2 separate regions of the Homo sapiens genome follow, and region 2 is linked to region 1. Evidence: fine-mapped expression QTL. Tissue or cell type: spinal cord. Region 1 holds a variant in brackets; the other region holds the start of a gene. All regions are shown on one strand. Distances are between the middles of the regions.

Evidence for each region. PIP is the estimated chance that this variant, and not a neighbour inherited with it, causes the effect.
Region 2: it holds the start of GRIN2A, and the variant in region 1 is fine-mapped to the expression of GRIN2A in spinal cord (GTEx, PIP above 0.99). The same link has a PIP of 0.9 or more in caudate, hippocampus and putamen.

Annotation. Positions count from the first base shown.
Region 1 is chr16:9,969,811-9,974,810 of GRCh38, reverse strand. The region is part of intron 2 of GRIN2A (glutamate ionotropic receptor NMDA type subunit 2A); the gene reads left to right. Among named protein-coding and RNA genes, the nearest start is that of GRIN2A, 210 kb to the left of the region's middle. The variant T/C (reference allele first, on the strand shown) is at 2,647.
Region 2 is chr16:10,179,971-10,185,096 of GRCh38, reverse strand. GRIN2A (glutamate ionotropic receptor NMDA type subunit 2A) reads left to right here and starts at 2,669. Exons shown (of 13, transcript NM_001134407.3): 1 at 2,669-3,220; 2 at 4,668-5,099. The coding sequence starts at 4,686. RefSeq lists silencers at 3,402-3,461, 3,472-3,581.

The sequences.
Region 1 (5,000 bases):
AAAGGAAGAAGTGAAATTATCTCTATTTGCATTTTTAAAGTGATTGCTCTAGGGATCACATGAAACATCTTTAGCTTTTCACAGGCTACTTAGGGTTGGTATTGCATTGCTTCACATACAATGTAGAAACTTTTCAGTATAGGGCCTACTCATTCCCCTTGTAGCAGGACGAGCCGCAGACAAAACTCCTCAGACACGGAGTTAAAGAAGGAAGAGGTTTATTCGGCCGCGAGCATCGGCAAGACTCCTGTCTCAAGAGTTGAGCTCCCCGACTGAGCAATTCCTGTCCCTTTTAAGGGCTCACAACTCTAAGGGGGTCCACGTGAGAGGGTCGTGATCGATTGAGCAAGCAGGGAGTATGTGACTGGGGGCTGCATGCACCGGTAATCAGAACGAAACAGAACAGGACAGGGATTTTCACAGTGCTTTTCCATACAATGTCTGGAATCTATAGATAACATAACCGGTTAGGTCAGGGGTCGATCTTTAACTACCAGGCTTAGGTCAGGCAGGCCCAGGCCTGATTTCGGGTCTGGTTCCTTGGTTTTGGGTCTGGTTCCTAGGCACCAGGCTAACTGCCTTTAGTTTCGCTTCTCTTTCTTTTTCTGAGTATAAAACCGTATAAAACAATGTGAGAGGGCCTGTCTCTCTTCTTCCACCCTCACCATCCTGTATGCTATAGTGTTATATGCATTGCATCTGTACATTAATACCCTAAGAGGCAATGTAAGGATTTGTGCTTTAAATAGTCACATGCATATGTATTTTTTTAATTAAAAGAAGAGTCTTTTATGCTTATCCAGATATTTATGCTTCTAATGCTCTTCATTAATTCCTGAAGGAATTAGAGTTTTCTTCTGGTATTATTTTCTCTTGTATCAGCTTGAATAACTTCCTTTAGCATTTCTTGAAGGGCTGGTCTGCTGGAAATGAATTCTCTTAGTTTTATTTTATCTGAAAAGTCTTTAATTCTTTTTCATTCTTGAAGGGCATTTTCACTAATTATAGAATTTGTTTTTTTTCCCCCCAGCACTTATAAAGACATTATTCCACTGTCTTCTGGACTCTGTAGTTTCTAATCTTAAGTCTGTGAAAAATTTGAATCATTGTTCTCTATATATAATGTGCTATTTTTCTCTTGCTAATTTTGAGATTTTCTTTCTTTTGATTTTCATCAGTTTGACTGTGATGTGCCTAGCATGGTTTTCTCCACATTTGTCCTATTTGGGGTTCTTTGAGTTTCTTGAATTTGTAAGTTTATGTCTTTCACCAAATTTCTTTTTGGCCATTATTCTTCAATATTTTTTCCCCTTCTCCATTCTCTTTCTTGTAGGAACTTTTGAAACCACCTTTGCAAAAATTATAACTGAGAAATCATGGCAGTGAAAGAGATCTGACTTAAGTGACTTCATCTTGCTTCTAACCTCCAAGTTGTCCTTGTTTTTCCTGGGCGGAGGTGTAGGCCAAAATAACCTTCAGAGAAACTTAGTTTATAGTTTAACTTTGAAACAAAGAGATATTAGCCCTTTCCCAAAACAAACACCCTTCCTGCCTGGGGATTGCCTAAAGCCAGAGGATGAGAAATTATGGTTTAGGAGTCATGCAGTTGAAGGCTGCAAGACTCTAAACCTCCCCAAATTGCTCCTGGGGATAACATCACTATTGTAAAACCTAAGATCGGTACTTGAGATATTTTGCAGACCCTTCATCTGATGGATCAGTTAGCACCACCCAGATTGATAAACTGGCTCATCTGGCCTTGTGGCCCCCACCCAGGAACGGACTCACAGCAGGAGGACAATTTTAACGCCCTGTGATTTCATCTCCAGACAGCCAATCAGAACTCCTGAATCACTGGCCCTCTACCCACCAAATTATCCTTAAAAACTCTGATCCCTGTATTCTTGGGGAAACTGATTTTGAGTCATAATAAAACTCTGGTCTCCTGCACAGCTGGCTGTGTGTGAATTACTCTTTCTCTATTGCAATTCCCCTGTCTTGATAAATCGGCTCTGTCTAGACAGTGGCAAGGTGATCTTGGGTGGTTACACTTTAATCACATGTATGTTAGATCTCACTCTGTCAATTTATAAAAGCCCCTCTGCTTAAGTCATTTCTATTGATCTATCTTCAAGCTCTCTGACTCCTGCCTATGTCATCTTCATTCTCATGTTAGTTCTATCCAGTAAATTCTTTATTTCAGATATTTTGTTTTTCATTTCTAAATGTTCTTTTTTTTATTTTCCTCTTCTGAGGCTTCCTACCTTTTTCTTTGTGATGAGCATATTTTCCTTTACCTCATTAAGTGTATTGTTAGAATAGCTGCTTTAACACCTGGATCATATTGGGATTGGCCTCTGTTGATTGTCTTCTTTCCTTGAGAATGGGTCAGATTTCCCTATTTCTTATATGTAAAGTAAGTCTTTTTTGCTTGAGAATGGGTCAGATTTCCCTACTTCTTATATGTAAAGTAATTTTGAATTGTACTAGCACTTTGTGAATGCTATATTGTGGGTTATATTTCCTTAAAGAGTATTCATATTTGTGTCTTAGCAGGTAACTAACCTGGTTATACTTACATTTCCATATCTGTCTCTCAGGTGGAGGCTTAGTTCTCAGTCCTGTTGGGTTTAAATGCAAACTACT[T/C]TGAGCCTTGTCTACTCACCCTTTGTTCAAGGACTGGCCAGAGGCTTGGGCAGAGTTTACATATACATGCCAAGAATTCCCTTCTCTAAGTCTCCTCTTTCTGGGGTTTTTATATTCTGCTGGCCGTGGACTTCCAGGTCTCTAACTTCCACCTCCTCAGGCCAGAAAGAGGTTGGCTCTTCCACTAGATGTTGAGCCACCCGGTGCCATTTTGGGACAGCAGCATGCTGTCAGACCTAGGTGGCAAAAATGTAGAACTCTATGATGAGCCCTTCTTCCATGTTTCAATGTCCCTGTGAAATCTACTGGCTATTTTTACTCTACAGAGCCTTCAGGTATATTTTTTTTTTCCTTCTAGCTTTAATTTTTTACCTGTTTGGGTGTGGGAGGGAATCTGTTAAGAGATTTCCTACCATACCAGAAGCAGAACTCTGGCTATCTTCTGCTGTTTTCTTAAACTTCTACACTGCTGGAACTATTTTTCAGATAAACTAGATCAGATAATTTTTATGGTAAAGTTAGACTGACATGTCATCATCTTCAGCCATCTCATTTTCTTACCCGACATTGGCAGTTTTACATTCTTATATATTCTTGCTACAAGATACAGGAGCTAGAAACAAGAATCATTTTATTGTCAGTCACAGTTCTGTGGGTTGACTGGGCTCTACTAGGTGGTTTTTCTGCTGCATGTAATAACAGCTGAGGCTACAGTTCCCTGAGAGCACAGTTGGGCTGAAATGTATGAGATGGCTCATGACATGGCTAAGTGGATGGAGCTGGCTATTGGCTTGGGGGCGTAGCTCACTGCCTAATGTAACCTTTTTATGTGGCTTGGATTTCACAAAGCATGGTGGTTGAGTTTTGAGTTGACATACCCAAGGGAAATTGTTATATCAGGGAAGAAGTGGAAGCTTCTGTTTTACTGAAAATTAGGCTTTTCTATTGGTCACATAGTCACTGTGCTGGTCAGATTCAAGAGGAGAATAAAGCAATCCACCTGTCAATGGGAAGAATAACAGAAAACAGTGTGGGCATCCTTAATTCACCCCACCTCATACTGTCTGCTCTTATTTGTCACCCATAGCCTTTGTTCATGCCTTGATCATCTCTTTATAGAATTCCTGAAATAGCCTTCTAGCCTCTCCCCTTCCCCCCAGTCTTGCCTCTCAAATGACTATCTACACAACTCTTTGTCTTCTCCAGAAAGGCTTCCTTTATTTCCCAGGGTGAATAAGCCTCTCATCTCTCCATTATTCCATAGCATTCTGTAATACTTTAACATTTACTACATTGTTCTGAAATCATAAAATCTATTTGTCTGTCTCACCAACCAGTCTGCGTTTCTCAGGGGAAGGAACTATATTTGATATATCCAATATTTCTCCTGTTGAGAGTTTACCAGCCTGTAATTTTCTTAAGGTAGGGGACTCTGCCTGCTTTATTTATTTTATCTTCAGTACCTAACTTTGTGTCTAGCTCATCAGAGATCCTTAATACATATTTCTTGAACCAAAATGATTTTTTTTAAATTCACAGTCAGTTAAGGCAGAGCAAGAACTCGATTCCAGATTTATTTCCCCTCTAATTTACTTCTTTCTAGGGCCCTCCAGCAGCCAAGTGAATCTAAACAATCCTCAAGGCCTCTTTTCCTTAGCAGATCTATCGTATCTTTATCTCCATATCTCAAAAGCACTTTCTTTCATATGTTTTAAAATATAAACTGAGCTTAATAAGATGAAAAGGTTTCAGGATTTTCCTGCATTGGTCTCTACTCCAGTCTCTCTAGTGGGCAATGCACCAAAACACTGCTCTATTTCCTAGCTTTAAACTTGAAGAAATAATCTCCAAGCTCCAGGGCTAAGAAAAGGATTGTACATTAAAGACTTGTTGCTTTGGACTATGAACCTTACAGGTCAATTTTTTTCTGGAATAGTGCTAATAAAGAGAAAACAAGTTAAATTATTCACCTGGAGGCCTAGCAGGTTGTATCCTGAAGGCTGAAGTCAAGTGCTTACTCAAACATTGAATTTGAGCTGCTTTTTTCTGTATTAGGGATCCCAATGCTTGGTGCAGAACAAGAACTCGAGATTTCTTTGACGTCAAGGTTGGCTCTACCTAGAGTGTGATTCTTGAACTGTAGTGTGTATAAGATTCACACGGAGAGTGTGTTAAAACACCAACCCCAGGCCCCACTTCAGAGAATTCTAATTCAGTAGGTCTAAGATGGCGTGCGGGAGTAGGCGTGCCTGTGAGTCTCCTGTGAGCTGCTGATGCAGCTAAGGCTTTAAGGCAGAGTTGTTCAGCAGTGGAATTCTTGACATTTTGGGCTAGATAATTATTTGTGAATAGGG
Region 2 (5,126 bases), 210 kb before region 1:
GCAGAAGGATCACTTGAGCCTAGGAGTTCAAGTTAATAGTGAGCTACGACCACACCACTGCACTCCAGCCAGGGCAAGAGTGAGACCCTGTCAAAAAAACAAAACAAAACAAAACAAACAAACAAAAAAATAAAAAAACACCAAAAAACCTTCACAAATGAAACCCTTGAGAGATATGCATTTTATTGTCTATAATTTATAACTCATTTAAATAAAATGGCCTAACTTCCCCTTTAGACCCCAAGCCAGAGTCTTGCATGGGTGCCAAGGAGTGGCCTAATCAGTTCAGCCCAGCCATAGACTCAAGAAAGGAAACATTTTCCTGTTCCCTGCCTTATATTATACAATCCCCCATTTTAATTTACTTTCCAGCATTTCCCTCACGCTTTCTCTGTCTTTTGGATTAAAAAAAAAACAAAAACAAAAACCCAGGAAACCCAGCATAGAACAACCAGCTCAATAATGAATCCATTTGTCTCCACACACTGTGCCCCTCTCCTGTCTCCATTTCAGCAGCCACATCCACATTCTTGGAAGAAGTTCCCCTGCTTCCAGGCTACTTCAAGGTGCATGATGTTGATTGAGCATCTACTATGTGCCAGACCTTGTTGACCCCTTTATTAAGGCTACTTCCTTTTCTTTTCAAAATAATCCTGAGAAGTAGATGTTTTTACTGCCCCCCATTTCCAGATTAGTGATCAATAAAGGGAAGTAATATAATGTCCAAAAGTGATATTTTAGTTTGATCCAGGTGCCATAGCAAAACATCATCAACAGCAGAAGTTTATTTCTCTCACTTCTTGAGGCTGGGAGGTCCAAGATGAAGCAGCAGCAGACTCAGTATTTGGGGAGGGCCTAGTTCCTGTTCATAGGCCGATGCCTTCTTGATTAAGTCTCACTTGGTGGAAGGACCTAGCTGACTCTCTGGCATCTCTTTTATAAGACCACAAATCCCATTTTACTCTCATGAAGCCATGAAGTCACCTCCTAAAGTCCCCACCTCCTAATACCATCACCTTGGGAGTTAGGATTTTATCCTATGAATTTGGGGGTGGGAACACACACATTTAGACCGCAGCAGGTGACATTAGGTTAAGTGGAGGAGGCAGGGTTGGAACAGTCATTGCAAAACCTCTTAGAATTTAAGACCCCTTTCCTTCCAAGGCCTGAAAGGCAGACAGGCGTTGGAGATACAGGTGAATATAAAAGGGGCAGAGCTCCTCCCTTGACCATGTATTTCATGCCCAGTCGCTAGAATTCAAGTCAACCAAGCCCTCACACACCCGGGCCGTCCCATGTTCTCTGGCTCACCTCTTCTGGTAGCTTAGAAGTGGCAGCCTCAGGGAGGCTTCTGTTTGGTAGAACTTAGAAGGAAGCATGTGGGAAATGCAGATGTCTTTGCTTTTAGGATTCTGGCTCCCTGAGATCAGAGGAGTGGGTTCCCGTACGGGGGTGGCGAGGCACAGGGAGAAGCATTGGAGCAGACTCTGTGTGTGTGTGTGTGTGTGTGTGTGTGTGTGTGTGTGTGTCGGCGCGCCTGTGCGTGGAGGGGGATAACTGTACCCAGCGCGAGGCACTGGGGGAGGAGGAAGCGGTAGCAGAGATCTGAATAATTGATTCTTCAGCCGCACCAGACGCCCGGGAGCGGGCGGAGAGCGTGGTTCCAACACCACGGACAGCAGCGCGCGCCGCCGCAGGCGCCCCCGTCGCCAGCCAGCCACCTATCCTGGCCTTATTTGCCGCCGTGCGCTCTCGGAACGGGTGGCCGCGCTCCGCGTCGCCGCCGAGGGACTGCGGGGTCTGTCTCGACCCACCTAGGAGAGAGGCTGCGGGCAGGAGACGCTTTCGCCCGCCGGAGCTCGAAGCCTCTTGGGCTTGAGCGGGGGCTACTGCGTCTCGCCGGCTGAGAACAAGTCCCTAAGTTGGTGTGGAGGGCGCCGCTACCTTCCTTCTCCTCTTCCTCGGAGGCGACCGCAGCAGAAAGACGCCCCGGGAACCCGGCTTTGCCAGTGCTGTGAACCAGGGTGTCCAGGCGCTCACCGGACTCCCGCTGGGAAGTGGGGAGCCGAACGCCCGGCGCGGAGCTGGCCCAGCAGCGAAGGGCCCGGAGGGAGCTGCCTTTCCCCGCCCGCGCCTCTCTCGGCCGGGGACCGCGGGGATCCCCGGCCACACGCGAGCGCGCTCCCACACTCACACACACACTCGCCCTCAAACACACCAGCCCGGAGCTGGGTTGCGGAGAGGGTGCTCCGGCGCGCTCAGAGGACCGGGCAGTTGCCGTCCGGAGTGGGGCAGGAAGCGGAGCTAGGGATCTTGGAGGGGAGCTCCTAGGGCTTGGCCGGATCATGGGACCGGGTGAGCGCTGAGAATCGCGGCCGCAGCCATCAGCCCTGGAGATGACCAGGAGCGGCCACTGCTGAGAACTATGTGGAGAGAGGCTGCGGTGAGTGCTAGCGCGGGACGCCGGGCCTGGGAGGCCCCCTTGGGAAGGGGGGAGGTGGGAGGCCTGAAGAGGGAGGAAGCGGCAGGATCACAAGAGGGTCGCTGCGTGGGAAAGATCCACCTCCCTCGGGGAACCGGGACCGCGGGAGCCCGCGTCCTTCCCTCCCCCTCTCCTACTGCTGGCTCGTCACAAACTCAGCCAGCGCCCCCCCACCCTCGTTACCTCCTCTTTCTCTCCCTACCTCCCTCGCTCAGCAGCTCCCGGTCGCACAACTCCCAGCAGCCGGCGCTGGGGAGGTGGTAGGGGGTGCGGGTGGAGGTGCCCAGTTAGCTTCTCGTGGGTGGCCAACCTGGGGCTCCCATTCTCCTGTGCACCCTGGAGTGGAGCTCCCGCTATCAGCCACAGGGGCTGAGGATCCGCACTGGGGGCGTCGTGGGCATCGGGCTTCAGCTTCCCCCCTCTTGTCTAGCCCCCCTGGGCGCATAGGGGGGCTTGTGAGCACTGCAGACTGCAGCCTTCCCCTCAACCCTCCCTCCCCTCGTTGGTGGGCTGACCCTGCCTCTCCTTCTCTCCTCCGCCCCGTTAGAGCCCTGCTGCAGAGCCTCCGGCTGGGATAGCCGCCCCCCGTGGGGGCGATGCGGACAGCGCGGGACAGCCAGGGGAGCGCGCTGGGGCCGCAGCATGCGGGAACCCGCTAAACCCGGTGGCTGCTGAGGCGGCCGAGATGCTCGTGCGCGCAGCGCGCCCCACTGCATCCTCGACCTTCTCGGGCTACAGGTACGTCCCAGAGGGAGATCAGGGCTCCTTGGGCCGGGGAGGAGGGAGACTCGACCGGAGGGAGAGCGGGAGAGGGATCAGGCTAGAGAGGGAGAGGGAAAGCGGGAGGGAGCCCAGCGGCGAAGTGCAGGAGGGGCACCAGGGGGCGCTGCGGCTCCGCGCTCCGCGGCGCTTACCCAGGAACGTCGAGGCCTCTTGGAGTTCGCCTCAACTTCCCCCGGCTCCAGCAGCGTCCGTCCCGAGAGGCGCGCGTCAGGGCACGCGTGCACGACCGTGCTGGTATTTGCAGGTACGCAGGGCTGTGCACCTGCCGCAGTTCATGCGTGTGCACCACCTGAGGACATGTGAGGACTCCGGCTGGCCGTGGGCACCGCTACAGCAGTCTGAGGAAGTGCGCAGAAAAGCGCGCGTGCCTATGAGCGTGTGCGGCCCACTGCCCACGTGCACCTAGGACTTGGCAACAGCGCCCGCAGTAGAAAGGCTAGGGAGGGGCTGTACAGTCCACGTCCGTCTGGGAGCTTCTTGGGAGCCTACCTTTCCCCCTACGCACGTTCTTTGCCAGCTCCTACGCGCTGGCCCGCGGGGGGACGCGCCTACTCTCCAGAATTCAGCATTGCACACGGCGCGCGTGAGAGAGGGTGTGTGTGTGTGAACATGTGTGTGTGCGTGTGTGTGTGCACGTGTGTGTGCACGCGCGCGTGTAGGGGTGAAGGACTCTCCACGGCCCCTTGGCTCGAGGTGGGGCGAGCCCCAAGTTCCCCAGGCACAGCGGAGCCTGGGCCCACCAGGCAGCGTCCTCACTCCCAAGCACTTGGGGTGTACTCTGACTGAGAGGAGCCGGGTCTGTAGTTGGGGCTGGGCGTAGAGCAAAGTGTGTGGTGCACACGACGGGCTCGTAGGGGGCGGGGTCAGCCAACTAGCTGAGCTCTCAAGCTGGGACGCGGGGTCTGGGTGCCGCCTCCGCACGCCCTGCGGGGTCTGTAGTTCGCTCCGCGCCAGCAGGGGGCGGGGTTGATAACTTGGTCCTCTCTATCCCAGGTGGGAGGGGTTGGATGGAGGGTTTATTCTGTGCACCTAGGAGCTTGGTGGGGTACAGAACACGCGCGGCGCTTAGGGTCTGTGGCCCGCGGCGAACTTGGGGAATGCGGTGGGGGATATGGACAGAGATGGGGATGGGGAAGTGCCTGGAGACAGGGGATGAGGAAGCTGGATGCGAGAAGGGGCTGGGGGATGGAGAATTAGCTCGAATTGGAGTTGTGGATAGAGTTAGAGATGGATCGAGGGATGTGGATGGCGTCGGGGACTCGGAATGGAGTCCGTGATCCCAGCAGCCTATCCTGCTGCTGAGTTCCATGCCTGGCTCCTAGAGCAGGAAGCCAAGTTGGTAATCCCTTTCTTCTGGTCGCCTTGCTCACCGCGGCCCTGCCTCTCACTCTTCACCTTGCAGGGACCGTCAGTGGCGACTATGGGCAGAGTGGGCTATTGGACCCTGCTGGTGCTGCCGGCCCTTCTGGTCTGGCGCGGTCCGGCGCCGAGCGCGGCGGCGGAGAAGGGTCCCCCCGCGCTAAATATTGCGGTGATGCTGGGTCACAGCCACGACGTGACAGAGCGCGAACTTCGAACACTGTGGGGCCCCGAGCAGGCGGCGGGGCTGCCCCTGGACGTGAACGTGGTAGCTCTGCTGATGAACCGCACCGACCCCAAGAGCCTCATCACGCACGTGTGCGACCTCATGTCCGGGGCACGCATCCACGGCCTCGTGTTTGGGGACGACACGGACCAGGAGGCCGTAGCCCAGATGCTGGATTTTATCTCCTCCCACACCTTCGTCCCCATCTTGGGCATTCATGGGGGCGCATCTATGATCATGGCTGACAAGGTAAGGCCGGAAACTGATGCCCTGCCA